6 separate regions of the Homo sapiens genome follow, and all the other regions are linked to region 1. The links come from fine-mapping of genetic effects on gene expression. A gene starts in region 1. Each other region holds a variant in brackets. All regions are shown on one strand. Distances are between the middles of the regions.

Region 1 (5,109 bases):
TCACTGTAAAATAGAGAAAGTACCACCTGCTCTTGATATCGCAAGGGGATATCACCCTGCTAGGGTGGGTTGGGAGGCAGGGTATGGGACTCAAAGAGCTTTGAAGTCCCTGATTGACTCAGCTTCTAAGGGCAACAGCCTCAGAACTGTTAACCTCTCTCCTCCTCCCTGAGGTCACATTTCAAAGTACAAAGATACATACTGAGCACCCAGTGGGCGCAAATTAACTTTTTAAAAAAGCCCTATGACTTCCTACTATATACCAGGCGCTACGTAAGATGCAAAGAATATAGAAAAGAGTAAAAGTGTTCCAAGATTTTAAACGGTGGGGGGTAGTACAATACAGAAGTGTTACCAAAGGAAGCTTTAAGGTGGGCTTGAGAAACAATGAGGATTTGGGGGAGAAGACTGGGGAGGGCATTCCAGGCAGCGGGAACAGCACGGAGGCAAAGGCACGTAGGTCTGAAAGTATGGCCTGACCTTGAAGGAGAGCTATGGGCAGGTGTCCCTGCATGCCAGATAAAGGCAGAGTTGTTCCAGCCAGCCCTCGTTAGGGCAGCAGGGCTGCTCCTAAAAGGCAGTGAGTGGGGTTTGGTGAAGACTCCAGCAGTGTGAGCTGGGGAGGGCTATGGAGTTCAGGGTCCCCGCCATCCCTGGAGAAACTGGCCCCACAAGGAAGTAGCAGCCACTGCACCCTCCTTCTGCACATCTCCTTCTTACACCCAAGCCGCCACTGCCCCTGCTCTCTCAAGGGTCTAACAGACCCCTGAGGTGTCTATCTTCAGTTCCTGGGTGGGATGGACTCTTCTTCCCCACCACCCACACAGGGCTTCTCCGCCCGCTCAGTCATTCCACAGCCAGGGACCCTTCCCTTTATGGCTCAATCCCTCAGAACTGCCCAGACGCCCAGGCTCTCCTTTGCCAGCACAGCTACGCAGCCCGCACAGCCTCCCCGTGCCCTCTGCAGCCCCTTCCCATCCAGCCAGAGCTGTCCAGGGTGCCACCCTGCTTCTACCCCCACCCACACCCTGACACCTCCCAGATGAAGACACTGAGGCACAGAGACATGGCCTGCTCTCACAAGACCTCACAGCCAGGAAGCGCAGACAGAGGATTCAAAGCTGGGGTACCGCAACTCTGAAACCAAGGCTGTCAGATGTGTCAGGGAGATGGGGAAGGAAGACCACCCCCCAAATCAGTAACCAGACCTTCCAAAAAGGCTCAACCATACCCCCACCCACCTGCTGGCAGGGCACAGACTTGCTGTTCTCAAGGGGTTCCCACCAGCTGTGTGGACTCTAGTCCCACAAGGAAGCACCAGCCACTCCCTCTCTGTGTCCTCCCTGCCCCCAGCCCGCTCCAGCAGCAGAGGCCGAGGAGAAAGAGAAACGGTGCCCTGGCTGTTGCCAGCTCTGGTCTTGCCATCCTCAAGAGCTGAGCTGGGTCTGCTGGTCCTCGGACTGTCCTTGGCTCCTCTCCTTGCTCTTACGCAGCTGGCATAAGGGGCCACTCCTTCAATAGGGACCACCCCCCGGCGCCGTCGCTGCCTCCTGGCCTGCTGCCCATGCCTGCATCGTCTCTGAGACCCCTTAGCAACCAAGGACACTAACTCTCCAGGTGCAGACGACGACACCCCAGGCACAGAGATGGACCCGCCTACCCAAGTTCACAAGAGATCAGAATCAGAGCTAGGACTGGAATCTAGCATCCTGAGGCTTGACGAAATCCTCCTTAAATCCACCCTTGCCCTGGAGGCCGGGATCCCCTAAGCCAAGAGAAAAGCGGTGCAGCTCCAGCAGCTGCAACTTCCTGGCTGGGCTGGTCCGGCTGCCTGGACTGTCCCGGAGAGTCTGTGACTGGCCCGTCCAGAAGGAAAGCGGCCTCCCGGGCCCTCCTCCGTTCCAATCCCTTACCTCTCTCGGGCTCCACCACCGTCCTGCCGACCCAGTTTCAGGGGACCTGCCTGTGAATTCTTTGTTCCAAACCCAGGGAGCCCCCTGTCTCCATTGCGCCCTGGCCCACCTCCAGGCCGTTCTGCCAGCCCAAGCTGCTGCTCACAGACCAGCATCGCTCCCCACCTCTCCCCGCCCCTGCCGTGGTTGAGGCCGCCTCGCCTCGGCAGGAAGCGCCCAGCCTGATTTCCTACAAGTGTTTGTCAGAAGGAGGGGGTTTGTCTGCGTGCAGAGCAAGAGCTGGAGGAGCTTAACCCCTTGCAAGCCCTCCGCAGTCAGCGCTGCCCAGGAAAGGACTCAGGGAACAAACTCCTGACGTCCTGGGCTTGGGATCATCTCAGCCCAGGCCCTGCAGGTACAGATGGGGAGACTAAAGCACAGAGAAGGTCAGAGGCTTGGCCAAGGTCACACAGCATGCTGTAGCTCCTACCCTCTAGGCCCTCTTCAACCACGGCCTGACCTTAGCCGAGGCTCCTTCCCTCACTAGGCCTCAGGGCCCATGTGCACGGTGAGAGCTCAGACTCAACACCACTCCTGCCCTTCCAGCTCTGACTCTGCCAATGTGCAACCTGAATCTCAGGGAGACCGTGGTGATTCCTGCCATCTCAACCCACCGTCCTCACCCCGAGGTGGTCCTGCAGCCAGAGTGGGATGTTCGGGGCAGCATGGAGGTGTGAACCTGGCGGATCAGGTAAACTTTCCCTTGTTGTAAGAACCCTCCAAGGGTTCACCAGATGTTGGGAACAGATCGATCCTGATGGTCAGTCGAGCTATCTTTCCTCAAGCCCCACCATCCCATTCCTTCATTCGTAGGTACTCACTGAGCTCCTACTGTGTGGCGGGTGCTTTTAAATCACCTGGGAATATGGCAGGGCCGAAGACAGGCCAGTCCCCTGCTCTCCACTCTAGCAGAGACATGGACAATAAGCAAGCACATGTATAATTTCAAGGAGAGAGCTGTGAACAATGAGACTGGGTGACGATCCGTGTCCCAGGCCAGGTGGCACTGAAGCCTGGGGCTCACCCCAGGCCAACAGAGTCAGTCTCTGGGCATCAGACATTTTAAGTGTCCCAGGTGACTGGCCCTGGTAGAGAACACATGGGGCCAAGAGTAATGGGTTGGAGGAGAAGGGTTATAGGACGGTCAGGAAGGTCTCTATGAGGAGGTGACATTCAAATAAGGCACTGGAAGGAAGAGGGGTCAAAAGCAAGCCACAAGAAGGTTTGGGGCAGAGTGTTCTGGGAGGGCAAGTGGAAAGGCCAAGGTGGGGGAGCCAGCGGGCTTTCCCTGAGAACAGCAAGGCCTGTGTACCCGGGGCAGAGCGAGTCAAGCGGGAGAAGCAGGAGCTTCACAGAAAAGCGGGCACAGGAGCACAAGAGGCTCCCAACACTGGCCCCACCCAGGACCCAGAGACTCTGAGTCAGGAAACAAAAAGAAAGAGGAAAAAAAACAGGCCTCTGTATTGTCCAAAAAGCCCTCCAGGTAATTCTGATAAGCAGCCAGATTTGGGAACCACCCATGTAGGAGAGAAAAAAATCTCAGAGTCACTGTGGACCTGGGTTCAAATCCCAGCCCCATCTCCTGCTGGCCCTGACCTTTGAGGCTTCACGTCTCTAAGCCTCAGTTTCTTCATCTGTAAAACAGGGATAAGAAGAGTAGCCACCCCACAGGGGCTGCTATAAAGATTCAATGACATGATGCCTACCAAGGGTAGAGCGGGGGAGCCAGAACACAGTCATGTATTGAGCTATTTTATTATTGCTACTACAACTATTGCTGCTACTTAGGTATAAGTCTCTGGTCTCCTCTAAAGGCTAGATCTTAATATCTTTCCTGAAGCCTGGCACACTGTTTATGGCTGATGAATGTGTTCTGTGAATGAATGAATGAATGAATGAGTGGACGTTCCCAAGGTCAGCTTGTGAATATCTGGCGTAGCCAGGGCTAGAACCAGGAGCCCTCATCCTGGTAATCGCCCACCCCTCTATCCCCTTTCCTGCCTTTTACCCACATCTGGGTGGCAGGGCTCTCCCTGTAGCCCCCAGCCCCACATGGAGCAGAGCCAAACCCTAATGAGGCCCCTCCCTATCAGCTCTGGAGGCCATGTGTGCCATTGTGCAAGGGGCGGGCTCCCCTGACACCCTGTCACTCACTCACCCTCCCTCCCTGGTCATTAACCCAGGCAGCATTAACCCAGGTGGCTGCCATTGCTGGGCATAGCCTGTGGCCCCTGGATAACCCCAAACCCATCTCAGGGGCAGCCACCTAACACCAAGGAGAACCGCCTGCAGTGCAGTCTGTTCCATTTCCTTGCACCCCCAAGCATGACCAACCCTCCTCCCTGCCTTTGCTCATGCACTGCCCCCTCTTGGATCACTGTCCCCACCCACAGGCCAAATTCTACCAAACCGAAGCAGCATGTCTAAGACTGAGCTCCTAGTATTGCCACCCTCCAAACCCACCCCTCCTTAGTTTGGCCCATCTTTCACCCAGGTACACACTGAGAATCAACTGTGACCCTGGACACTTCCTTTTCCCTTACATCCCATAACCAATCCATCGTCAACTCCCAGTGATTTCATTTCCTAAATTTCACCAGAATCTGTCCCCGTTTCTGCATCCCCACGTGGGTCCCTGGATCGGCCTTGCCTGGAAAGCTCTAGGGTCCACTAATCTGTTCCCCACACTGCACCGATGTGGTCTTCCAAGATAAAAGTTCCAAACAAGACCCTTCCATGCTTCAGACGCACAGCTAGCTACTATGGCTCTGAGAAAGAAGATGAAACTCCACAAGCTGGCCGCTGCTGCAGCCTCTTCTCCCACCACCCTCTCTGCCCTTGCTCAGCATGCTCCTGCCATACAGGCCTCCTTGCTTTTCCTGGGACAGATGTGTCCTGCTCCTCCCCTCACCCAGTCCCACTTCTTTTCCCTGTTAACTTCTAGGCAACCTCCAGATGTCAGCTCCAGCGTGCCCTCCTTGGGGACTCCCCATTTGGAACTATATTTCATATGTGATTATTTGATTAACATCTGTCTCTTCACTCAGTTGGGAGCTCTGTGAGGCTCTCATCATCATATCCCCAGGACCCAGCACACAGGCCCTGATATACAATAGAAATACAATAAATATATCCTGGATGATCCACTCAACCTAGC
Region 2 (5,000 bases), 35 kb after region 1:
TCCCAAAAAACTCCCTGTATAAAACCACCCTATGGCCTTTCTGAGGCTTGCCTTCCCCAGGGTGCCCCAATTTGCAGTGAGAGCCCCTCTGGCAGAGCAGGGCCAACTTCCACAGCTGGGATCTGGACTGGCCCCAGATGGTGCTTCTCAGGTAGGGGAGAGCCCCCTGAGCTGGGACAAGGTTGCTGTGGGCCAGTGCCGAGCTGGGGGCTCCTGACCCCTGCCCCAGAGCCCTTGCCAGGCAAGATAGTCACCTGACTCCTGGCACTCCAGCCTGATTTGCCCTCAGGGCTTCGGGCTGCTGAAGTCAGAGCCAGCAAGGACCCCAGGCCATTTTATCCAGAAACTGAAGACCAGAAAGGCTGGGGCTCAAACCTAGACCTCCTGCCTCCCAGACCAAAACACATCCCACCCCATTCACTGGATATTTCATCTCTGATTCTAAAGGGACCACTGTAGAAGCACAGTCTGCAGTTTCCCAGGTTTTAGAGCAGTGGCTCATGGCTGCTGAGGCCTGAACATTATCAAGGCCAATCTCAGTGGAGCCTATCTTAGAGAGAAACAGTCATCAGGCCAAGGACCTGCACCCTTAAACCAGATCCTCACCTAAATGCCATATCAAAGTATGTGCTCAGAGCCTGGGGTGAAGGACAGCCTCTTCCCTGCCCCAGAAGTGATCTGCTTGTCCCAGAACATGGAACTGCCTCTGCTGCAGCCATGTCCAGCCCTAGAGGAATGCAGGGCGACTTGTGGGGACATCCCAGGAAGGGGATGAGCACCCTTGGAAATGATGGCAACTCAGGATGGGAGGGATAGGGGTAAAAGAGTATAAAGGAATCACCCCCAGAAACCCAGAATCCCAGGGCTAAAGAAAAGCCACACTAGGAGTTGGAGCTTGCAAAAGAGAAGGGTGCATGCTCCTGGGCCATTTTCTGGTGGCTGCAAGCTCATCCTCACTCATTAACCATCTGTGTTTATAACCATGGCCATCACTGCACACCTCTGAGCTCCTGCTCTCCCACTTAACAAGACAGCTAATACCGTATCTACCTCCAGTCTGAGATTCCTCCAGAAAGAGCTCTCAGTTCAGCATCTGGGAGCAACCGCCTGCTTAAGAAACATTACTCTCCCCACTGCCTTTCCATAGAAGAGTGGTGATGAATGACCTAACGGTGAGAAACAAGGGCATAGAGGAGAGCATGGGGCCAAGCCAGCTCTCCTGACCTCCAGCCCTGACTTTTCCACTGCATGGACCTTAATAACCAGTTGTTTCCCAAGACAGGTAACAATGCATATGCTCCTGCTCCTTCCTTGCAAACGTCTCCTGGGATTCATTTGCCTCCAAGCATCCAGGGGGCAGAACCATATCTTGAGATGGCCAGATGCTTTGCTGGGGGGCTGGTGAGTCTGCAAGAGAGTCACGCTGGGGCCACGCATGGTGATTCACACCTGTAATCCCAGCACTTTGGGAGGCTGAGGTGGGTGGATCTCCTGATGTCAGGAGTTCGAGACCAGCCTGGCTAACATGGCAAAACCCCGTCTCTACCCAAAAATACAAAAATTAGCTGGTTATGGTGGTAGGCACCTGTAATCCCAGCTACTCAAGAGGCTGAAGCAGGAGAACTGCTTGAACTGGGGAGGTGGAGGTTGCAGTGAGCCAAGATTGCACCCCTGCACTCCAGCTTGGGTGACAGAGCAAGAAGCCATCTCGAAAAACAAAAAGAAAGTCAAACTGGGCTTGGGCTCCAGAGACAAAAGGGTGGCCTCTTGGGGAAAATAAAAATCACAGTCCAAGTTACCATGCCCACTACCATCTACTGAGTGCCCAGCGGGAGTGGGCACCATGCCAGAGGCATTCCCAAGGATTCTAATGATCTTTTTCTATTTGCCTAATTTACCTACTTTTTTTTTTTAACCTTTCTCCCCCAGCTTCCCAGACTGCAAGCCCCAGGAGGCAGGGCCACATCTCTCCTGTTCACCTGTTGTCCCC[A/G]AGAGCCCATGCCTAGCATGCAGTAGACATTCAACAACTATTAGGTTTTTACAGAGGAAGAAACTGAGGCTCAGAGAGGCAAGGCACACAGCTGGTAAGTGGTGGTGCTGGGATTCGAACTCAGGCTGGTCTCACTCCAAAGCCAGCATCTTAACTCTGCCCTGGCTACTAAGCCAGGGACAAGGCAGAAGAAGCTCACCCTGGCCGAGCTGACGGTGGTGGAGGTGCCGTGGCTGCCTGTGGATGAACCCGTGTCACTGTAGGAGACCATGGAGTAGGTGTCCCCAGCCCCGGGGCCTGGGGGCTGCCGCGCCTTCATGGACTCAATCTCACGCCTCAGCACCAGGTGGTCGAAGCGTTCTAGGTCTTGCGGGGAAATGGTGCCTCTCACCTCAGAGAGGAGTGAGAACTGGAGGCGGGGACAAAAGGGGCACTCAGCAGGGAGCGCTACTAGAAGGTGGAACAGGGGCCCTGCTACCCCCAAAGGACTGGCATGCAAACTTGACCCTGCCTCCCCTCCTTAACTGTCTGGCTCCCCAGTGCTCTCAAGAGAAAGGCCAAACACCGTCACCTGGACACCAGGCCCAGCATCATCTCACTCCTGCTTCCCTGTCATCTCCTCAGCAAGCACATGTAGCTGTGACTCCCTGGACACACTGCAACATTTCATGCCACAAAGCCTCTGGCTGTCTGAACCTTCCACCCAGAATACCCTTTCCAATACTCATCTCCAAATCCTATTTCCTCTGTTAAGTCTTCCGAAACATAACCCCTCCCAGTGGATTTCACCACCTCTTCCTTTGTACAGTTTCTGGACCTCAAACAGTTTGGAGCAGAGTTCTCAAAGCTGGTGGCACAGCACAGTCACCTGGAGGGCTTGTGAAGATGACTGACAGCTGGCTCCCATCCCCAGATATGAGGCGTTAACCAGCCTGGAATGGGGCCCGAGCACTGCTTTTAAGAGCAATCCAGGTGATTCTGTGCACTCAGCGTTGGAAGCCACTGCGACAGGGACCCAATCACAGGGCGCTTTAAATGTCTGTTTCCCCCAGGAGTCTGTGAGCATCCTGGGGGCAGGAGGCTGCCTCAGTCCCAGGTCTCTGCCCAGTGTTCAGTTCAGGCCTGACCCCTTGTAGGTTCTCAGCAAAGGAGCGGGGGCAGGGCAGGATGCAGAGCCCTGGAAATGCTGAAGCCAGTTGGGAGGCAGGGCACGGGTCACCTTGGCGTGGGTGTTGAGCAGCTTGAACAGGGCCATGACGAGGGCCTCCACAGAGACGCTGCCACCACGGTACTCATCCAGGTAGTAGGCCATGGTGGCGTGTTCCTGCTCGTTCAGCAGGTGCCGAGCCTGCTCCTCCAGCAGCACTCGTGTCTGGTTCCCCAGGCTGCTCAGGGTCACCTGGGAGCCGGCTGGGCCCTTGTAAAATCCTGGCTGCAAGACAGAAAGATAGAAGCCCAGGAATTCTTAGCTGCTCTAGAGCTGAGTGGCCATGCCACTCCCCCTCTGCCCTTCCATCCTGTCTAAGTGTGGTGTTTCATCTGTTATTCTCCCTCATAACCCCCAGCACCTTGCCTTGATAGTACTATCTTTCTTAATTAGAATTTGTTTTGTCTTTACATCTCCTTCACTGAGTAAAACCCGCATGAGGGCAGGGACCTGGTCTGCTCTGTTCATTGCCATCAACCCTGGTGCCAGAGGTAGTGCCCAGAACCTAGCAGTCAGTCACAGATAAGTGGGCTGGGGGGTGGGCAGATAAGGGGCTGCCCAGTTGGAATGAGGTAGTGTAAGTCACTCGGCACCCTCTGGCTGGCCAGACCTCCTCACTCAGGGAGCTGTGAGGAAGCAGAGAATACCCCTTAGAGGATGTCCTACCTTGTTTATTCCTTCTGTTGTGAGATCGCCAAGAAACCTGTGGGGAAAGACACACATCTCCAGTTGTGCATTTGAGCAGATCAAATGGGCGTGGGCAAGGGACAGGGTGACTTGGGGCAGGAAGAGCAAAGCTTCAAGAGAACCATGCATCGTGGCCTCCACTCGCTGCCAGTTCAGTCTGGGGGCTACTCAGGGGTAAAGGAAACTCCGGACAGACTGGCAGCGTCCAGCCTCCCAATCAGCAGTGTGCACGGCACCTCCAAAACCACCCGAGGTGGGCTCCTGAGTTGTTGCCAACCCCGCAGGACCAGGCAGGTAACACAAGGAGTGGAGGGAAGAAATGGTGATTGACAGGCAACCTCAGGGTCAGGCCAACCCTCAGGAGCTTAGGGGCCGGTGAACTGGAGATCCCAGATGCAACTCGCAGGTGCGGCTCAGCTCCAGCCGATGTGGGCTCAGGCTGCCAGACTTCCTGATTTTTAAGAAGCATCCAGAAATCCAGTTTTTTTTTTTATAGAAAACCTGGTATCTTTCTAGATGTTGGCAAGTAACTTTGAAAATGTTTAATACTATGCAGGTGAAAGGAAGGGAAGGGGGAGACACACACACACACACACACACACACACACACACACACACACACAGAGAGACACAGACAGACAGACAGACAGACATGCTCTGCAGTGTATTTGGCCAGGTGGCCACCAGCCTGAGATTTCTGATGAAGATCAAAAGGTGACACATTACACTGTTGGCAACTATGCAGCCACCTGGCAACTGGATCTCAGTTTATGACTTTAAGACCCTCTCACCCAGATTTCTTCATGGGATCCAGCCTGGTGGCCTCTGGCCAAATACACCCCAAAGCATCTCTCTCTTTCCCTCTCCCTCCCTCTCTTTCATCTGCACAGATCTGGGATGAGGGCAGGGTTATGGTCCCCACTTTTTGGATGAAGCAACTAAGGTCTATAGAATGAGTTAAGTAATTTGGGGACAAATAAAGAATGAGACAGTTGGATGGTGTATTTCAGCTTTCCATGGGGAAACTGAGGCCAAGAGAGGAGAGGGATGTGCCCAGGTCATGTCCTGCCAATGGAGGGCCCTGGTGTGGGGACTGCAGGCTGAGAGGAGAGCCAG
Region 3 (5,109 bases), 310 kb after region 1:
CTAGAGAGCATCACTCTGAGGCTTCTTGGGCAGCATTGGAAAGGGCTTAGGTTCCGAAGAGGTGGTGCCCGTCCCTTTCTAAGGCTCTCTCCCCCAATAGATGGCCCAAGGAACAGTGTTACAGTGCAGGTCATCTCTCAGGAGCACTTGGTGGGCATTCCTCTTGGTGCTGTGTTTTGTGCTTCCCTTTTGGAAGAGAAGGAGGAAGGAGCCGCCGCAGTGTAGGGCAGCATGTGATTCAGAGTCAATATGGCTTCCCTTTCCTTCCACACATGCTTTCTTGTCACCAAGTCATCTGGAATGTCCATGGCCAAACATACTACCCACCCCTAGTTGGATTCAGACTTCTGCCTTTCCCATGCAGGGCAAATCACTTTCCTTCTCTGAGTCTCATTTGCTCATCTTTAAAATGACACCCACAATTCCCACCTTGCTCAGGGCAAAAAGAGCTGGCATGTATGAAGTTACATTTTGAACTGCATGGTGTGCTGTATCTTGGAAAGACTTCTGTGCCTTCCCCGATGACACACTGTGCTGTCTTTCGGTAGCCACCCACCTCTCTATGCTTTTGTGCTCATGAAGCTCAAAAGCTTCTTCATGATGATTCTATACTGAGCCTTATAACTGATTTCAAGACAGTGTGCTAATTTTCAGAGATATGGAAGAAATTTTTTTTTTCTTTTGTTTGTTTTGAGACAGGGTATTGCTCAGTTGCCTAGGCTGAAGTGCAGTGGCACTATTATGGCTCACTGCAGTCTCTTCTTCCCTGGCTCAAGTGGTCCTCCCACCTCAGCCTCCTGGGTAGCTGGAACTAAAGGCATGCACCAGCACACTGGGCTAATTTTTTCTATTTTTTGTAGAGGTGGAGTCTCACTATGGTGCCTAGGCTGGTCTCTAACTCTGGGACTCAAGCAATTCTCCCACCTCAGCCTCCCAAAGTGCTGGGATTATAGGCTTGAGCTGCTGCGCTTGGCCAGAGGAGATTATTTCTTAAGATTGTTCTGATGAAACCCTAAAAAGTGAAATCAACATTCTCAGAAACCAATAAAATAAGACAAATCTTCTGGCTTTGGCAGGGATGTGGGAAACTTACAGGAAAAATTATGGGTTTGCCAATGAAAATCATCTAGACACTGTGGGTTAAGGAATCTGTGGGACCACCTTGCCCAAATATATGCAGGAATCATTTTATTGATTGATTGATTGATTGATTTTTGAGCCTGAGTCTCCTGTCGCCCAGACTGAAGCTCAGTGATGTTATCTTGGCTCACTGCAACCTCCACCCTTGGGGTTCAAGTGATTCTACTGCCTCAGCCTCCTGAGTAGCTGGGATTACAGGTGCCTGCCACCACGTCTGGCTACTTTTTGTATTTTTAGTAGAGACAGGGTTTCACCATGTTGTTCAGGCTGGTCTCAAACTCCTGACCTCAAGAGATCCGCCCGTTCGGCCTCCCAAACTGCTGGGATTACAGGCGTTAGCCACTGTGCCTGACTGGCAGAAATCATTTTAAGGAAAGTAAGCATAATAGTAACATTTGTGACATTAACTATGTGTAAGACACTGTGCCAAGTGCTTTGCTGTGGAGACAACTATCTAAGATGAAATCCCAGCTCACCGTATGTTAGCTGTGTGACCTTAGATGACTTATGTGGCTTCTCTGAGCTTCAGTGTCCATGCCTGTAAGTGGCATGGTAATGCCTAATGGCTTTTTGAGGATGCATTGAAACATTGAACTCAAAGTTTTAAGCACAGAGTAAACACTCAATACCTAATGTTGCTGTTTTGTTGTTATAATTCATGCATTTCTTACAAAATTCAGGACAGTCGTGAATTTTGTGGCAGATAGAGCATTCTGAGGGCCCTGGGCTTCAGTGCTATTTTGAATTTTTTTTTTCCTCAAGGGGAGAGATAAGTACACTTGAGGTTTAGAGTAAAAGTAAGAGGATTCTTGAGTTGTAAATTACGTAAGTCTGATTTATCAAATATAAAGTGGGAAGTTTCTTTCATTGCAGAACTATAAAGATTTATAGGACTTTTAGAAAGCTGTAATTACACTCTGAGTAAAGGTTTCTTTCCTCTTTATAAAGTACACATATGGGCTATGTAATTTGATGATGGTAAATTAAAATGTAGTTTTCTCTATTCCTACTCCAAACAGGACCATATAAATGTTGCCTGGCTGGATTTTGACTATCAGACCACTCCCTTTCCATATCTTTTTGGGTCTCTGCTTCCTTAGATGGAGTCCCAGGCAGGAGTTGAGCAACATAATTGGATCTTTGTTCTCTGACCTCTACTGGGTGCTTGAGGGTTATAGCTAGAGGCCTTAATGGACTAGATGCCTGCACCAGACAGCTGCTTCTATGTAACTTGAAAAGCAGCAAGAGCGAGCCCAGGCAGATCTTTTTCCAACACAAGTTTCTGCTAGGTGTTGGCCTTTTTGTTCACTAAATAGCTTCAGACTGAAGGGGCAATGTCACCTAGGTGTGTAAATAGGTTCATCTTTGCTAGCATCTGATGGAAGGCCAACCCCTTCAAAATCTTCACTTTGATTTCTAGCAAGGAAAGAGCCAGGAGGAGCTTAAGAGCCCATGCGGACTAACTCTCCCTTGCTCCCACTGTATAGATAGGAACACTGAGGTCCCCGAGAAGGAAACATTTTGCCCACGGTCACAAGTTGAGTCCCTGGTTGAGCTGCGATATGGACCTACGTCTGTTTGATCCCAAACCTGTCTGCACTTGCAGCAAGACTTCTAATTGTTTCCCAGTTTCCTTTCACCACTTCTCCCTTAATAATAGAACTTGCAATTTGTGGCTGGAAATGTAACTGTCTGGAATAAAGACCATTATTTTCCAATCTTCTCTGCAGTGGAGGCAGCTGTGAGACTGAGTTCTTGCCAATGACAAATAACTGATAGCATCCTATGTGACTTCTGGAAACATTCTTTTGTCCTTCCTCCTTCCTGCTAGCTGGAATGTAGAGGTGATTTATTGCCACAATAATGCTTAGTAATAAATACAAAACCTCAGTGGCTTATGGCAATGCCTGTTTCTTGCTCTTGTGCCCGGGATGGC[C/T]GGCCAGTTCTGCTGAAATTGGTTGGGGTTGGTCATACATCAGGGCAGTTGGCTGGCTACTGGATGGTCTATAATGGGCATGGCTGGGACAACTGGGTGACTTGACCCTGGTTCATGTCTCTCATCTTCCAGCAGGCTGGCTTATGCCCATGGAAGAGGCTACAAGGGATAAATAGGAACATGCTAGTAATTTTTCTTGCCTCTGCTTGTGCCATGTTCTCTGATTTTCTGCTGGCTAAAACAAGAAACATGGCTAGGGCCCAGAGACAGAGTAGGAGGACACCTCACTTTTATATCTATGTCATGGGTGTAGGGTAGAAGGAAAGCTGGGGCCTTAATGGATCCAATCTATTGTTGATGGATGACTGAATGAATGGAGGGATGGATGGAAAGGCAGCGAAAAAAGGCAGACAGGGGAGGAAGTTCTCTTGACCGTGTCCAATACAGGGGGAAAGTAAGCACTAGAGAGCAGTTTCCCATGGCTCTACGGTTCTCTGAGACCCTCCTGGCTTGGAGACTGCGCATGGCACACGGGGGTGCTTGGAGCTTGTGGGGTGTTTATTTCATGACTTGCTTCTCTGTTGGGGAACCTTTGCTTCTGAGTGAGTCATTGCGAAAGGCTTCTTAAGCTTCACTTTCAGGTTGGGAAGAGTCTATTTTGGAGATGAGAAGCCTTTTCAGAGGTCCTGAGCTTATAACATGAAAACAGTTGTGCTGTGGCCTGAGAACTGAACTGAGAAGCAAGGGACATGTGTTTCAGTCCCACCTCTGCCAACTCAGGAAAAAAACAAAAGCAAACCAAGAACAAAACACATCAGAAGTAGGAATCTCTCTTGGGCAATTTCTAAGTACTATAGAACTTGTCAGCAAGAGAGAAGGCCAAGGAAAAAGTTTTGTTGTTGTTGTTGTTTGTTTTTTTTTTGAGACTAAGTCTTGCTCTGTCACCCAGTCTGGAGTGCAGTGGCATGAACTTGGCTCACTGCAACCTCTGCCTCCCAGGCTCAAGGCATCCTCCTGCCTCAGCCTCCTGAGTAGCTGGGATTATAGGCACCCACCACCATGCCTGGCTAATTTTTTTTTTTTTTGTATTTTTAATAGAGACAGGGTTTTACCATGTTGATCAGGCTGGTCTTGAACTCCTGACCTCAAGTGATCCACCCACCTCAGCCTCCCAAAGTGCTGGGATTACAGGTGTTAGCCACTGTGCTCAGCCAGAAAAAGTTTTAAGAATTCATTTTTTTTTTTTTTTTTTTTTTTTTTTGAGACAGAGTCTCGCTCTGTTGCCCAGGCTCTGGAGTGCAGTGGCATGATCCCGGCTTACTGCATTTTAACCCAGGCTTCATGGTTCTTTGAGCTTCTGATAATATATTTTTTAAATAAGATACAAATTTTAAAGGAGATAAAACTAAGGTTGATAATTGAGTTTTCCTTTTTTTTTTTTTTTCAATTCAAGAGCAGGTACTGTTTATTAACTGACCAGATTAGAAAAATAATCATGGTAGACATCTTCATTTATTCTTCTAAGAAGGCTGTTGATCTGGTCCCCCCTGTTGTCAGCATTTCCACCTTCTACAAAATGGGTGGTCTTTTTCTTCATTCCACCTTCTGGAGAGGATGGTTTGGAGGGCCACAGGAAGTTACTTGCTTGTTTGAAGCATTTTCCAACAGTATAGATCTCATGAATCAGATCTTCCGTGCAGATGATACCATATTTACCAAGAGATTGAGCAATCAAAGTGTTACCTGTCAAAGCAATTCGCTTCTTATTGATTTTGCCATAACCACACTTACAGATTAGTTCATTTACTGACTTCAGATTTGGCTACCCACATGCAATATATGGTTCTACAATCCTCAGCATGTTAATTGAAGATGTGTTGAGCTTCACAAAGGTTCCATTGAAGATTTTATTTATTTATTTATTTAGAGATGGAGTCTCGCTCTGTCACCCAGGCTGGAGTGCAGTGGTGCAATCTCGGCTCACTGCAAGCTCCACTTCCCGGGTTCACGCCATTCTCCTGCCTCAGCCTCCT
Region 4 (5,109 bases), 27 kb before region 1:
ATACTAGATAGATCCACTTGCCTGCTAAATGCTCTAGGCCTTGTGTGCTCTCATACTGTCTCTCTCTCTCTTTTTCCACAGAAGTTCAAGAGAGGCATTAAAGACACCACAGCTCTCAGTAAACTATCACAAGGACAAAAAACCAAACACCGCATGTTCTTACTCATAGGTGGCAATTGAACAATGAAAACAAATGGACACAGGAAGGGGAACATCACACACCGGGGGCTGTTGTGGGGTGGGGGGAGGGATAGCATTAGGAGATATACCTAATGTTAAATGACGAGTTAATGGGTGCAGCACACCAACATGGCACATGTATACATATGTAACAAACCTGCACGTTGTGCACGTGTACCCTAAAACTTAAAGTACAAAAAAAGAAAAATAAAAAAGACACCACAGCACTAACTGAGACTTTCTCCTTGGCATCATTAGAAGGTCAGAGACAGAAAAAGAGAATGATATTCTTTTTTCTTTTTTTTTTTTTGAGACAGGGTCTCACACTATCACCCAGGCTGGAGTGCAGTGGCCCGATCTCAGCTCACTGCAACCTCCGCCTCCTGGGCTCAAGAGATTCACCTGCTTCAGCCTCCCAAATAGCTAGGGCTATAGGCGTGTACCACCATGCCTGGCTAATTTTTGTATTTCTTGTTGAGATGGGGCTTTGCCGTTTTGCTCAGGCTAGTCTTGAACTCCTGGACTCAAGTGATCCACCTGCCTTGGCCTCCCTCAATGCTGGGATTACAGGCATGAGCCACTGTGCCCAGCTGAGAATAATGTTCTTTAATACTGCATGTGTCCTACTGAAAATCATGTCCCACACTACCCAAAATCATTTCAAGGGCTATCAGTGGTATACATTCCACACTTGAAGAGGCAGGACAGGTAAGCCATGTCTAAACTGTGAAGCGCTGTCTTATTCACTCTGACAGTGATCATCCCTGTGGTTTTAGGGTGGAAACAAACATTCTGCAGGAAAGGCTCAGTGACTTACTCCAGGGGAGCCCCATGACTTTTCTCAGCCTGCACCGGGCACTGCCTTGGGAGGACCCTGGTGGCCTCTGCTTTCCCTGGAGTTGCAGCCACCCCATCAACTTCCAGGGAGTCACCTCCCCCCTCTTCCTCCTCCTCCTCCTCTCCTTCTTCCTCCTCCTCCATTCTCATGGCTTCTGGGAGAGACTTCACACTGAGGTACCTGCAGAAGAACACACAGAGGGGCATGACCTCTGCCCAGTGGGGGACAGCCAAGATCCAGCTGCTGGCCAGACACCCTGGTCAGGTCCAGGTGGCACTCACCGCTCCATGAGGCCATGGTAAACTTGCTCCATCTGCAGCTCCTTGTGCCTGAGTCGGGCCAGGGGGTCCTGTGGCCTGTCCTCCACCTCACTGTTGCCAGAGCTCACCTCCACATTTACGTGCAATGGGCAGGGGCCAGTGCTGGCGGCGGCAGTGGTGGTAGCAGGCTGGGGTCAGAAAGATGGACAGACAGAGATTCAGCAGATAGTTAAACACCACTTTTAAGCACTTACCTCCTGCCAGGCTCGAGCTGTGGGCTGCGGGGTAAGAAGCACATTAGACTCACTAAGCCCACCACCCTTTTATGTATGTGTAAACTATGGAGACTGGGCTGTGTGGTCTTCGATACTGGCTGCCATGAATTGAGCACCTGCTGTGTGCCAGGCACCATACAGATACCATGTCACAACAATCCCACCAGTACCTACGATTATTACAAACCATTTTATAGACAGGTAACTCACGCTCAAATGATTTGCCCAAAGTCAACAGAAACAAGGAGCAGAGTTGAGATTTAAACCTAGATTTCCTGCCAGAGTTAACTCTCCTGACCCCCATCCATTCCAGCATGGCCACCCCAGCCCCCTGCAATACCTTCAACTGCAGGAGCATGAGGGTCCCTTAAGATATTGTACTCAGGTTTTCTCCCCATTCAAGTGTGTAGTGGCACCTGGTAGAGTTTTCCTACCCTCTAGGCCAGAGCACAGCACAAGATTTTCCCCAAACCATAGGGCCAGCATGACCTCAGCTGTCAGGGATGTCCTACCAGTGTCCCACCCTACCCAGCATGCCAGGCTCTCTTTCCTGCTCCCATCCTCAACAGACAAGTCTTTGCAGCACAGGCAACAGGAGTTGGGAGGCATAGAGACCCCACTACTGTCATCTGTGTGAACGCACTACACTCAATTTGCTCGCCTGCAAAACGGAGATAGTGATTGTCTCTCAAGGGGTTGTGGTGTGGGCCAGACAGCCTTCTACAAAGCCCCTTTTGTGTAGGGCTCTTGTCTAGGTTTCACCCCATTATCCATGCAGTACTACAAGCTAGAAACCTGGAGCCATCCGTGTCTCCCTTCCTCCCTCTCACGGCCACTCCAAGTCCACTCAAACATACCTTCCCAACCTCTCTTAAGTCCACACATGCTTCTCCATTTGCCCTGCCACCTCCCCAGCCTCAGACTGGCCTACCCACAAGTCATCTTATGTCATCCCCTGCCAGAAAATCCAGCAGAGTTTAAGGCCATGCTCTCTACGTGACCCACAAGCCCCTACATCATGGGGCCCCTGCCTGCCTCTCCAGCCACATCTCAGACTATTTTTC[C/T]TTTCTCTTCCCATACTCTAGCCACAGGGCCTTTGCACAAGCTGTTTTCCCTGCTGGATGGGTTTTCTCTTTCTGTCTCTAGTAATTCCTACTTAGTCTCAGGTCTCATTTAAACATGACTTCTTCAGGGAAAGCTTCTCTGACCTCCTCCTCAAACTCAGTCATGTTACTCCTGCTACTCTCACAGAACCCCATAATTCTCCTTCAGTGCACTGACCAAAATTATAACTAAATCACTGTAACCAGTTCAACTCTACAGAAAACTCTGTGAAGGTAGACGCCACCTTCCCTGCCACCTCCCATCCCACTGAATCCCTACCATGTGTCATGGTACATGGCACACACTTCATAAATATGTAATATTTACATATTTGGCACACACTGGCATATGGCACACACTTCATAAATATGTAATACGTATTGAAGAAATGAATTAACGAAGAAATGAATGCACGAGGGAACAGCCCAATATGGTTGAGCCAAGAGGTACCTCAGGGCAGGAGGTCTTGATGGCTGGCATGGGGGCTTGTCCAGAAGGAGCAGGCAGGTGCGTTGGCTGATGGAGGCAGGGCAGGGCTGGGGTGCTGTCCAGAGCTGAGTCTGACCCGGGCGGCTCAGGCTCTTGCTGGGTCTGGTCTATGTGTTCCTTCAGCTCTTCCAGGCAGCTTCCCAGACGGTATATCTCTGCCTCCAGCTCCCTGGAATGCAGAAACATTACCACCAGGAGCCCAAGATGGCAGCTACATCAGGCAGGTCCAGGAACAGAGTATCAGAGCAGAGACTCCAGGGGATGCCCCCTTAGGGTCCATTTAATATCAGCCTTTAGATGATGGTGAGAACTCAAAATAAGCAAGATGAAAGAAGGTTCCATTGGGAATCAGGAGGTCTCAGCCCAAGTCCCCTCTGCCATCCACAGGCTGTGGGACATTAGAGAAATCCCACCCCCATCTAGCCTCAGTTTCCCCATCATCCAATAAGGGTTTCAAGGCATCTTCTCAGCACGTGGGTCCAAAGGGACTCAAATCACAGCTTTTGATCGTGCCACCATTTGGATATGTATACTAATTAGGATAAGATTTCTCTCTATTCCCCGTGTACAAATTATAAGGACAAAGTGCCTCCCTCCTGGAGACTGAGGGACCCCAGGGGCCCATCCCATCTGTCCTTCCAGGCCTTCCACCCCAGCAGGTACCTGCGAGGATCAAATCTTCCAGGCGTCCCCTTGGAGCCGGCAAGCGGCTGGGCAGGGTGTTGCTCCCGACAAGCCTTCAGGTACTCCTCCTCTAGGGCCGCGTGGGCAGCCTTCAGCCGCTGGAAGCCCTGAAACCAGACCAGGCCAGGAAGACTTGAGTGCTCAGTCCCCGCGGGGCCTGTCCCTGAAGACACAGTGGATGAGACAGCTTGCGGGAGGCCATGGGATGCACCTGGGCCCCTGGGTTCATGCAAGATACAGGCTGAGGTTGAGATCTCTGGAGGCTGCCTGCCCTGGAGAGCTGCCGTGGTCAAGCTCTCTGCCATCAGGCTGGCACAACAGAGACACAACTCAGAGACTTGGCACCAGCTCCAGAGGGCACCAGCCCTTCCTGCATAGACTTACAAGGACCCCAATGTACCACAAACTGTCATAGCTGTCACAGTGTCAAATACACTCTCACTATTATCTCCATAAGGACCCTTTACATGAGAGACTCTGGATCCTCATTCTTGATTTGCAAAACTGTGGGCTTCAGAAAATTAGCCACTCTTTCCCCAAATCCTTATAGACTATCGACACCGATAATGTTATCATCACCATCACATTATTGAGAATGTTTACTGAGCATTGAGGCTCTGGGCTAAAGCACTTTGCATTTATTTAATCTTCAATATAATCATAATGAGAGGGGTGATTTATCATCTTCATTTAAAAAGGATGAAACTGAGGCACAGGGAGGTCACTTAAGTTGATGAAGGTCATGGAGTGAGTGAGTTGTAGAGACAGGATGTGGGCCCAGGCCCTCTGGCCCCAGAGCTCATGGTCCTAGCAATTCTGCTAGGCTCCCATAGGAGGATCACAGGTAATACATGGCTAAAGCTGCAGGAATTGGGGTTGGTATCACTGTCTTACTACCATCCACATCCCACTCAACTCTGAGGAGAGACAGAAGCCAAGCACAACCTAAAACCCATTCCCTGGTCACATCTAATCTTCTGACAGCTCTCAACTTCCCTGTATATGGGGGGATTAGAACAGAGAGCAAAAAAATGAATGGTTTTAGTTTATAAGGTCCTTGGTCATCCACTGGATGATATTACATGATACATATGACACATTTTGTGATTGGAAAATGTACATGACATCTATGTAACCACACAGGAAATATCCTGCCATAACATTTTTTTAGAAACTAGGTGTTTTGAATTTGCCTCTCCAGACCTTCTCTCAGCTCCTCTCCCACCCTGCTCTGTGCTTTGAGCATCAGGGCTGTCTACCTGCTGGCTTCTGGTTGGGT
Region 5 (5,109 bases), 37 kb before region 1:
TGGAGGCCTCTTCCTGGCTGTGCCCCAGCGCTGAGTGTGTGTGTCTGAGGGCAGTGGGTTCCCTTGGTAATCCCCAGGGAGACGCTTGCTGGTGTTTCTGAGGCAAAGCCACGAGGGCAAGTGTGGGCGGTGGCTACTGGAGAGTGACATCTCCCCACCCCCAGTTAACTCCTGAAATGGAGAGCTCCGCCTCCTAGTCAGAAGGCACTAAAAAAAAAGACTTACCAGGCCGGGGGCGTGAGTCAGCCACTTGGGTATCTCAGTCTCTCTGATGTAACTCTTTAGTTTCTTACTGAGTGCCAGCAGGCACTTAACATTCATCTTTCTCTGCAAACTTACTTCCCTGTCTCTGCACATGGCAGCAGCATCTACCTGACTAGCCAGACAGAACTCTGAGTCACTCTAGATCCCCTCCTTCCCTGAACATCCCTGAAGTTAATTAGTTACCAAGTCTCATGGGCCCAACTTCCAAAATACCTCTTCCCAAATGAATCCCTTCTTCCCCTCTGTAGGGGCCCTCCCCGAGAACCCAGTCCCCATCATCTCTCTCCTGGATGTGGCAGCCTTCTCAGCAGTCTCTTGGTCTCCGTTCTCACCCTGCCGGTGGCCAGAGAACTCTAAAACATAAACCTGCCTACGCTACGTCCCTGCTTAAAATCCCCTTCCCTGTCCTCTCAGCCTTTGTGCACTCATGGAATATGCAGTGAATGTCTCCCCTTACCCATGGCCTTCAGGCCCTGTAGGATCTCCCATAGGTCTCTCCTCTCTACCCCTCTCTTCCTTTACTGCTCAACACTCCACCCCCTCACACTAGAGGATCTGGCTGACCGTTTAGCTCCTCCAAGGTGATGGGCACTCTCTCACCTTTAGGACTTTGCACATGCCATTCCCTCCACTGAAGATACTCTTCTATCTCTCTTCCTTCTGATGTCTGCTGAGATACCACTTCCTCCAGGAAGCCCTCCCTGAAGCCTCTAACCGGACCAGATGCTCCTTCGCTGTGCTCCCACAGTCCTTTAGTCCTCTGCCATCATGGTATTTATCACAATGGAGGGCACTACTGCCTGTTTCTTTGTCTGTTCATCCTACAAGATGGTAAGCTTTAAGAGGCCTAGGATAGAGTCTTGTCCACTATTGTATTCCCAAGGCCTGGCATACCCTAGACAAACAAGCCTCTAATTCCTCCACTGATGTCAGGGGAGGCTGCAGGGGTAGACTTACTAAACTCAGACAAGGAAGCCAAACACCAGCAGCTGGACACAACTTTGCACGTAGGCAACATGACAGCCTCATGCCTGTTCGAGCCAAAGAAACCTTGGCTGGGCCACCACCGAGCAGTCTCCCCAGCGCATCCCGGGACAGACACCCACTCCAGCAAGGGTGTGTAAGTGATCACTGGCCAAAAGCAACTAAGAGGAGGTGTGAGAGAACTGACCAAGCGATTTTACCATTTCTGTTCAACCAAGGAAGTGGAACTTTCTTAGTAGAAAAAATGCACACGAACCAAAAAAAGAAAAGAAAAACTCAGAAGGCAGTAGCTTCTTGGTCCATACAATCAATGGTCAAATTGCAGAAAAGATAGCCCTAGAAAGGACAGGCTTTTCTCGGAAAAGAGATGATGGAGAGAGAGGGCATAAGTGTCAGCACCAGAAAGGTGAATCTTTAGGTCATATTCCACTGGCTGGAGAAGTGTGTCCTCGATGTCTAGATCAATGAGGTCCCACAGAAACGCTGGGAACTGGGAGGCAGGACACCTGGGTCCGTCTGCTCCTACCACCACCATCTGTGTGAGCTGGGCAGGTCTCCACCTCCACCTGCTAACACGTCGCATCACGCTCCCGTCTGTATGATGAGCTTGAATCCCCAGGATCCAAGTGTCTAACTTACTCTCGCCCTGCCCTGGTGAGCAGGAAGCTGGGGATGGTCTCTGTTGGTCCACAGGGTAGAGGCGCAGCGGCAGGGGCGGGGGCTGGGGGTGGGCTGATTGTCTTGTTGGGAAGGGGCTGTTCAGAAATCCGTTTGTGCCCCTCAAACTCTGAGCCAGGAACCGCTAGGGAGGCAGAGAGAGAACCCAAAGTGAGTTTAAGCAGAGAGAACTTCCAAGCTCACACTTGTGCAGGTGGAATGATGGGGGAAGTGAAGAGACGGTGCCTAGTTCAAGGTCACAAAGGAAGTTCCTGATGAGGCCAATGACCCACACTGACCTCCAAACCAGAAGATCTAGATTTTGCTGGGAGTGTGGGGTGCTGAGCTGGGCCTGCCCCGCTGTTTCTAACCAGAACCCCTCCTCCCACCCACCATGACACCATCCGAGTCTTCAGGAACTTCCCCTGCAAAGAATTAATCACTTCTTCACTTGGGTTCCTCAAGACTTGATCACCTTCTCACCATGTTTTTGTGGGGCTGGCTTCAGAGCCTCCTCTGAAATTATAGTCACCTCTTTCCACGTATGCATGTTTCTGGGGAGAGCATTAATAACTTTTAACGAATCTCCCAAAGGGATGGGTGACCAAAGGTTAAAAACCACTAATCCGTCCCCTGCATTAAAAGCAATGAACTGGCCAGACATGGTGGCTCACGCCTGTAATCCCAGCACTCTGGGAGGCTGAGACGGGAGGATTGCTTGCGCCCAGAAGTTTGAGTCTAGCCTAGGTAATATAGAAAGACCCCATCTTTGCAAAAAAAAAAAAAAATTATATATATAAAAAAATTAGCTGGATGTGGAAGTATGCCCCTTTGGTCCCAGCTACTTGGGAGGCTGAAGCAGGAGGATCGCTTGGGCCAGGGAGGACAAGGCTGCAGTGAGCCATAATGGCGACACTGCACTGCAGCCTGGGTGACAGAGCAAGACCCTGTCTCAAAAACAATAAAGAAATAAATAAAAAATAAAAGCAATGAAACCCTTGGAATACTACT[C/T]AGCAATATATAAAGGAGCTAACTATTAATACACAGAATAATCTAGATAAATCTCCAGAGAATTATGCTGAGTGAAAAGCCAATCCCAAAAGGTTACATAGTATATGATTCTATTTATAGAACATTCTTGAAATGATAAAATTATAGAAATGGAGAACAGATTAGTGCTTACCAGGGGTTAAGGACAGGCTGGGGGCAGGAGGGAAGTGGGTGTGCCTATGAAAGGGTAGCATGAGGCTCCTTGTGGTGATGGAACGTTCTGTATCTTGACTGCATCAATGTCAACATCTGGCTGTGACATTGTACTACAGTTTTGCAAGATAGTCTCACTGGGGAAAACTGAGTAAAGGCACATGGGATCTCTGTGTATTATTTCTTATAACTGCATGTGAATCTACAATTATCTCCAAATAAAAAGTTTAATTAAAGGCCGGGCGTGGCGGCTCACACCTATAATCCCAGCACTTTGGGAGGCTGAGGCGGGCGGATCACTTGAGGTCAGGAGTTTGAGACTAGCCTGGCCAACATGGTGAAACCCATTTCTACTAAAAATACAAAAATTAGCTGGACGCAGTGGTGCATACCTGTAGTCCCAGCTACTCGCGAGGCTGAGGCTGGAGAATCACTTGAACCTGAGTGGTGGAGGTTGCAGTGAGCTGAGATCGTACCACTACATACCAGCCTGGGGGACAGAGTGAGACTCCATCTCAAAAAAAAAAAGTTTAATTAAAAACGTTTTTAAAATAATGAACCAGCTGGGCGTGGTGGCTCATGCCGGTAATCCCAGCACTTTGGGAGGCCGAGGCGGGCGGGTCACAAGGTCAGGAGTTCGAGACCAGCCTGACCAACATGGTGAAACCCCATATCCACTAAAAATACAAAAATTAGCCAGGCGTGGTGGCGCGTGCCTATAATCCCAGCTTCTCAGGAGGCTGAGGCAGGAGAATCTCTTGAACCCGGGAGGTGGATGTTGCAGTGAGCAGAGAGTGCACCATTGCACTCCAGCCTGGACAACAGAGCGAGACTCCATCTCAAAAAAAAAAAAAGATGAACCTTTTAGGCAAAGCTAATCTGAGGTGTCAGAAGTCAGAACAGTGGTTATGTTTGGGAAGCAGGTAGTGACTAAATGGGACTTCAGTGAGGTTCTGGGGTTCAGATCATACTGAGTTTCTTGGTGTCTGTTCACCTTGTAAAAACTCATCAATTTAAGTTCTTTTTGGTGGTTTTTAATTTCAATAAATAATTCATGTGTATTTCTAAAGGTCAAAAACTGAATCACATATAGATTTCATAGACATGGAAAGTGTTTATAGTACAATTTAGTGAAAAAAGGAGGTCGCCAAATATTCACATATAAAATGATCTTATTTTTTGTTTTTTTTTTTTATGTTTTTTGAGATGGAGTTTTGCTCTTTCGCCCAGGCTGAAGTGAAGTGGCGCAATCTCAGCTCACTGCAACCTCCGCCCCCGGGTTTAAGCCATTCTCCTGCCTCAGCCTCCTGAGTAGCTGGGATTTTAGGTGCCAGCCACCACGTCTGGCTAATTTTTGTATTTTTAGTGGAGATGGGGTTTTGCCATGTTGGCCAGGCTGGTCTTGAGCTTCTGACCTCAGGTGATCCACCCGCCTCAGCCTCCCAAAGTGTTAGGATTACAGGCGTGAGCCACCGTGCCCAGCCTCATTTCTGTTTTAAGTATAGTCACGCATCACTTAATATTGGGTATAAGCTCCCAGAAACACATTGTTATTCTGTTTCACCATGTCACAAACATCATAGATTACCCACACCTATTACATATGTGAGGTAGATGGAATAGCCCATTATTGTAGGCTACAAACCTCTACAACATTGCCTGCTGAATACTGTAGGTATCTGTAACACAATGGTAAGTATTTGTGTATCTAAACATAGAAAACAGACCATAAAAATATGGTATAAAAGATTTTAAAAATGGTACACCTGTAAAGGGTCCTTACCATGAATGGAGCTCGCAGGACTGGAAGTTGCTCTGGGTGAGTCAGTGAGTGAGTGGTGAGTGAATGTGAAGGCCTAGGACATTACTGTACACTGCTGTAGACTTTATAAACACCATACACTTAGGCTAAATTTACAACATTTATACAAAAGTTTTTTCTTCAATAATTAATCAAGTTTAACTTACAGTAACATTTTTACTTTATAAGCTTTTTAAATG
Region 6 (5,000 bases), 90 kb after region 1:
AGGCCCCTTACCCAGGATCCAGCAGCCAGGGATCCAGAGACATCAGCTCATGCCCCTTCCCAATAGGGAAATGGGGTTTCCACACTGTGTCAGGAAGAGGAGGAACAGGGAGGAGGGTAGATGCGCCAGTCTGGGGCTGTGGAATCTGGGACGGCCTGTCTCTGGGATGGTTCAGGGTGTCTCCTGCCTCCTTCGGTATCTGGGTCCTCCCTGGAGTATGATTCATGCAGCCTTCACCTCTGCATTATTTTATTCTTGAGACAGGAGCTCACTCTGTTGCTCAGGCTAGAGTACAATGGGGCAATCACAGCTCACTGAAGCCTGAATCTCCTGGGCTCAGGTGATCCTCCCATCTCAGCCTCCCAAGCAGCTGGGACCACAGACACATGCCATCATACCCGGCTAATTTTTTTAAAAATACTTGTAGAGACAGGGTCTCACTACGTTGCCTAGGCTGATCTCAAACTCCTGGGCTCAAGCAACCCTCCTGCCTCAGCCTCCCAAAGAGCTGGGATTACAGGTGTGAGCCACTGTGCCCAGCCCCACATTCTTATATGAGTTATTGAGACTCCCAGAGGCACCTTACCTAACCCCCACCCTCCCATCTGCTCAATCCTTGCAGACACTGGCCTCAGTCTTACTTCAGGGCCTTTGCACATGCTGTCCTTGCTGCTTGGGATTTTCAGTCCCCGAATGGCACATGGCAGCTCCTTCTCCCTCTCTAGGTCTCAGCTCGGAAGCCGTCTCCTCAGAGAAGTCCTCCCTGATCACCTCAATCAAAACAGCCCGTACCTCCCTGGCACTTTCTACCCGGCTCCTGATTTCACTTCCTCCCATCAGTTTGCACTGTCTTAATTATCTTGCTCACTGGTGCTCATTTTGGGATTATTGTCTCACTCTTCCCACCACCTCCAAACTCTGGATGCTTCCCAAGAGCAGGGCCCCAGTGCTCTTGTCCACTCCCATAACATCGTCAAGCACCCAGGTGCTCAGCAAACACTAGGAGACTTGCTGGCTGGGCTGTGGTTGCCACAGCGCTGAGCCTCAGGTTCCTCATCTGCAAAATGGGGATGATGACACCTACCTCCCAGTGTGGCTGCGAGGAGGACTCAGGAAGACACTGTGAGCACAGGGCTGGGCACACAAGGGCTCTCCATCAATGATAAGCTCAACTCACCCCATGCCCTGCATAGAAAAGGGACTGAGAAAAAGATAAAACAAGTTCTGTGCCCAACACTAGACAGCTGCCCTTGATCATGACTCAATAACCACTGGCAGCATTCTCTCAAGATTGTCAGAGAACAAGTTCCCTGGTGGGGAGAGGGTACGAGCCCACCCAGCCCTGGCAACCTTGACGCGGCCCGGGCTGCTGTGGTGCATACCAACAAGCTACCTGCTGCCGCTCACCTCCAATAGAAGCTGCTGTGATCTCTGCCGCGTCCTGCATATTGACGTTTCAGCAAAGAACACAAAACACATTAAATAAATGTTACAGTCTTATCGACAGGAAAAGGAGAGCTGAGAAAGAGTTTCCAGAGGCATGGCACTTGGCCCAGAGCCCCAAGCCATGTGGCCTCCTGGCAGTCAGTGTCAAGGTCCTACACACCAGGGAGCTGCCTGCAGGAGCTATGTTCTTGGTTCCAGGAGTAACCAAGGGGTGCAATGCAAACAGCACCCAGAGAGAAGGGTAAGATATCAGGGACCATTTCAGCCTTCCTGTGTTTCAAGAAACAGTACAGGTCTGGGGTCAGGAGGGCTCCATAGGGGACATCTATTGGTGTCCCTGCCCCCTTCTGCAAGTTAGAACACCCCACAGTGCTTTGGGCAACCACCCCTCTCCCACTGGCTACAGTCTTGGTGGTCTTGTCAATCAAAGTCCCTAGACATCCCTGCCAGCCCGTGAGGTGCTCCCTCTTTGGGAATCTTCAGGGGAAGGACACTGAGAACGGAATGGTGGACATCCCCCTACTGCAGGCTGCACCCTGAGATTCTCGGCTTCAATTCTGGGACTGCCCCTGTCCTTCCAGTACATCCCTGCTCTGTAAAATGGCCAGGGCTGGTTTCTGTTACTTATGCCCAAGATTCACACTGCACAAGATTCCCTGTGGAGCAGCAATCCTGGCCACATTCCTGGCAGCTATGTGTGGCCATGCACCTGGGTCTAGGCCAGTGGGAAGTTTGGTGATCTTGAAATTAAAGAGATGCCTCTCTTTCCCTTTCCTGGGAGGTAGAAAGGGGACCTGATGTGGCCCAGCTTCAACCACGAGAAGGGGCAAGACCCTGGGGGATGGAAGATGGAGGGAATCTGGGTCCCAGGATAAGTCCTGGAGCAGAACTGTCCCCCAGATGAGACTGTCCCTCTATTCTGTTACATGACGGAGAAAAAAAAAAACTCTCATTTAAATCACAGTATTCAGCCAGGCATGGTGGTGCACGCCTGTAATCCCAGCTACTCAGGAGGCTGAGGCACAAGAATTGCTTGAACCCTGGAGGCAGAGGTTGCAGCGAGCCAGGATCTCGTGACCGCATTCCAGCCTGGGCGACAGAGTGAGACTCTGTCTCCAAATAGATAAATAAGCCAATCAATAAATAAATCACAGTATTTAAGCTCTTTTATTGTGGCAGCTTAGCCTGTATTATAACATACACTACACAGGTCAAAAAGAAAAGCAAAGAAAAAACACCACCCTTCAGTACAGACTTGAGGGAAGACAGAGCCTGGACAGAACCAGCCTCTTCTTGCGGCCTCCAAGCAGCTCTGCTGTTCTGGGTTCGGAGGGAGAATACGGTGTCTGAGAGGCTGGCCTCCTTTCCCCACCCCACTCACCTTTTTCTCATCCCCTCCTTGCAGGAGGTGCAGGGTGCTCCTCCGGTCACCCTCCTGCTGCCTCAGGGCACCACCGTGGGGCTGGGGCAGGCCCGAGGGTGGGGAGATGCTGCGGCCCTGCGGGTCCACCCAGGTGTAGATGTGGTTGGTGACGTAGCCCCCAGGGATGCGCCCTGCTGAGTACACAGACAGCACCAGCTTCTTGGAGCCCTTCAGAGCCTAGGGAGAGAGGGATACAAAGGTTAGAGGAAGGGAGGTGCCGGGGGTGTGGA[G/A]GAACACCCTCCCCTGGCCCAGACCTTGGTTTTTCTCAGGAGCCCCACATGGAAGAAGAGGCCAGCCCTGAAGTCCCTTTCCTTCTCTAGCCCTCGATTTTGTCCTGTGAAAACAAGAACATCTGTCCCACCCCCATCCTGAAGTGGTCCAAATACAAGAAATATGATCTTTTAGGATACCTCTGCGGAGGAGTTTGCATTGCAGGCCTGACACTGTTATCCTCAGGAAGGCTCGTTTACAAGGCCGGCCTTTGGCTGGCATCTCGGAACTTGGATTTGGGGAGTGTCCCACCATTCCCTGACTGAGAAATGCGGCTCATGTGCTTAGACTGTCTGTAAACAGTAATGGTTTATGCTCAGCCTGCTTTCCTCCTGGGAGTCTGGAAGGTGGGTACAAGTAGACAGGGTCTATGTCTACCAGCCCCCAATAAAAACTGTGGGTGCTCTCTAATGAGCTCCCCTGATAGACAACATCCCACACCTTTGTCACCATTTGATGCTGGAGGAATTAGTGTGTTCTGTGGAACTCACAGGGAGGGGACCCGTGGAAGCCTGTGCCTGGTCTCCTCTGGACTCTGCCCAATGCACCCTTTCCCCGTGATCATTCTGCTCTGTATCCTTTGGATGTAATAAACCCTAGCCACAGGTACAACCATATGCTGAATCCTGTTAGCCTTTCTAGAGAATCACTGAACCCAGGTGTCATCTTGGGGACTCTGATAAAATACCAAGCACAGAGTCGACAGATAAAAACAATGATAGCAATCGCTTAACATTTATAAAGGGCTTGTATGTGTCGGCCACTCTGCGCTGCACCTGATATGCATTATCTCATGAAATCCTAATGAAATCCAATGGGGGAGGGGGACTGCAGAGGGGAAGGAGGATCTCATTTGTCAGATGAAGAAATGGAGGGAAACTGCCTGCCCACACAGTGAGTAAGAAGTTCCTTTCTCAGCCGGGCGTGGTGGCTCACGCCTGTAATCCCAGCACTTTGGGAGGCTGAGGCAGGCAGAGCACCTGAGACCAGGAGTTCAAAACCACCCTGGCCAACATGGCAAAATCCTGTCTCTACTAAAAATACAAAAATTAACTGGGCGTGGTGGTGGGCACCTGTAATCCCAGCTACTTGGGAGGCTGAGGCAAGAGAATCACTTGAACCCTGGAGGTGGAGGTTGCAGTGAGCTGAGATCGTGCCACTGCACTCCAGCCTGGGCAACAGAATGAGACTCCTTCTCAAAAAAATAGTAATAATTAATTAAAAAAAAAGAAGTTCCTTTTTTATAGCAACTAATTCTGAGTGTGGAACACCATCTTTATTGTACATTTCCCAGTCTTCAGATGGAACCACCGTGAGGAGAGGCAAGCCCAAAACTCTACAGCCTGGGGTGGAAGCTGAGGTCTGCCATATTGCTTCACCACAAGACGCTTGCAGCTGAGATGAAGACATTGACCCAAGGAGACACTCACTAAGCACTAGGATTAACAATAAACATAGCCTGTGTTAGGGACTGAATGTATTTCCCTCCAGATCCATACGCCGAAGCCCTATCCTCAATGTGATGGTACTTTGGAGATGAGGCCTTTAGGGGGTAACTGGAGTTAGATGAGGCCATGAGGGTAGGAACCTCATGATGGGATCAGTAGCTTTGTAGGAAGAGAGAGTTCTGGTCTCTCTTCATGTGGGGACACAATGAGAAGATGGAAGTTTTCAAGTCTGAAAGTGGGCCCTCACCAGAACCCGAGAACAATGGCACCCTGATCTCAGACTTCTGGACTCCAGAACTGTGAGAAATTAAATGTCTATTGCTAATGCCACCCAGTCTATGGTATTTTGTTATGGCAGCACCATCTGGCTGTTTGAATAAATGATAGAATTCACACACACTGAAATTTTATGC

Which allele goes with the higher level. Alleles are on the strand shown, and positions count from the first base shown. SD is a standard deviation of normalised expression in the study named. Not every link is listed here.
With allele G in place of A in region 2, the expression in monocytes after interferon gamma of the gene that starts at base 2,036 in region 1 is lower (small effect, 0.32 SD a copy in Fairfax 2014).

The links.
Region 2: its variant is fine-mapped to the expression of AKNA in monocytes after interferon gamma (Fairfax 2014, PIP 0.95).
Region 3: its variant is fine-mapped to the expression of AKNA in whole blood (INTERVAL, PIP above 0.99).
Region 4: its variant is fine-mapped to the expression of AKNA in whole blood (INTERVAL, PIP above 0.99).
Region 5: its variant is fine-mapped to the expression of AKNA in whole blood (INTERVAL, PIP above 0.99).
Region 6: its variant is fine-mapped to the expression of AKNA in whole blood (INTERVAL, PIP above 0.99).

Annotation. Positions count from the first base shown.
Region 1 is chr9:114,385,947-114,391,055 of GRCh38, forward strand. AKNA (AT-hook transcription factor) reads right to left here and starts at 2,036. Exons shown (of 22, transcript NM_001317950.2): 1 at 1,914-2,036. LOC124902253 (a long non-coding RNA gene) reads left to right here and starts at 2,104. Exons shown (of 3, transcript XR_007061742.1): 1 at 2,104-2,307; 2 at 2,499-2,643; 3 at 4,897-5,109. RefSeq lists enhancers at 699-848, 1,663-2,398, 1,869-1,998, 2,039-2,328.
Region 2 is chr9:114,421,125-114,426,124 of GRCh38, forward strand. WHRN (whirlin) reads right to left here. Exons shown (of 12, transcript NM_015404.4): 5 at 3,864-3,900; 6 at 3,210-3,422; 7 at 2,190-2,399. Among named protein-coding and RNA genes, the nearest start is that of AKNA, 36 kb to the left of the region's middle. RefSeq lists an enhancer at 181-681. The variant A/G (reference allele first, on the strand shown) is at 1,991.
Region 3 is chr9:114,691,334-114,696,442 of GRCh38, forward strand. It overlaps LOC105376231 (a long non-coding RNA gene), which reads left to right and starts at 4,517. Exons shown (of 2, transcript XR_007061745.1): 1 at 4,517-5,109. RefSeq lists an enhancer at 1-438. The variant C/T (reference allele first, on the strand shown) is at 3,077.
Region 4 is chr9:114,358,597-114,363,705 of GRCh38, forward strand. It overlaps AKNA (AT-hook transcription factor), which reads right to left. Exons shown (of 22, transcript NM_001317950.2): 8 at 3,810-3,937; 9 at 3,108-3,315; 10 at 1,300-1,466; 11 at 998-1,198. Among named protein-coding and RNA genes, the nearest start is that of AKNA, 27 kb to the right of the region's middle. The variant C/T (reference allele first, on the strand shown) is at 2,618.
Region 5 is chr9:114,348,972-114,354,080 of GRCh38, forward strand. AKNA (AT-hook transcription factor) reads right to left here. Exons shown (of 22, transcript NM_001317950.2): 15 at 1,888-2,050. Among named protein-coding and RNA genes, the nearest start is that of ORM2, 22 kb to the left of the region's middle. The variant C/T (reference allele first, on the strand shown) is at 2,917.
Region 6 is chr9:114,475,726-114,480,725 of GRCh38, forward strand. WHRN (whirlin) reads right to left here. Exons shown (of 12, transcript NM_015404.4): 2 at 2,828-3,046. Among named protein-coding and RNA genes, the nearest start is that of WHRN, 27 kb to the right of the region's middle. The variant G/A (reference allele first, on the strand shown) is at 3,100.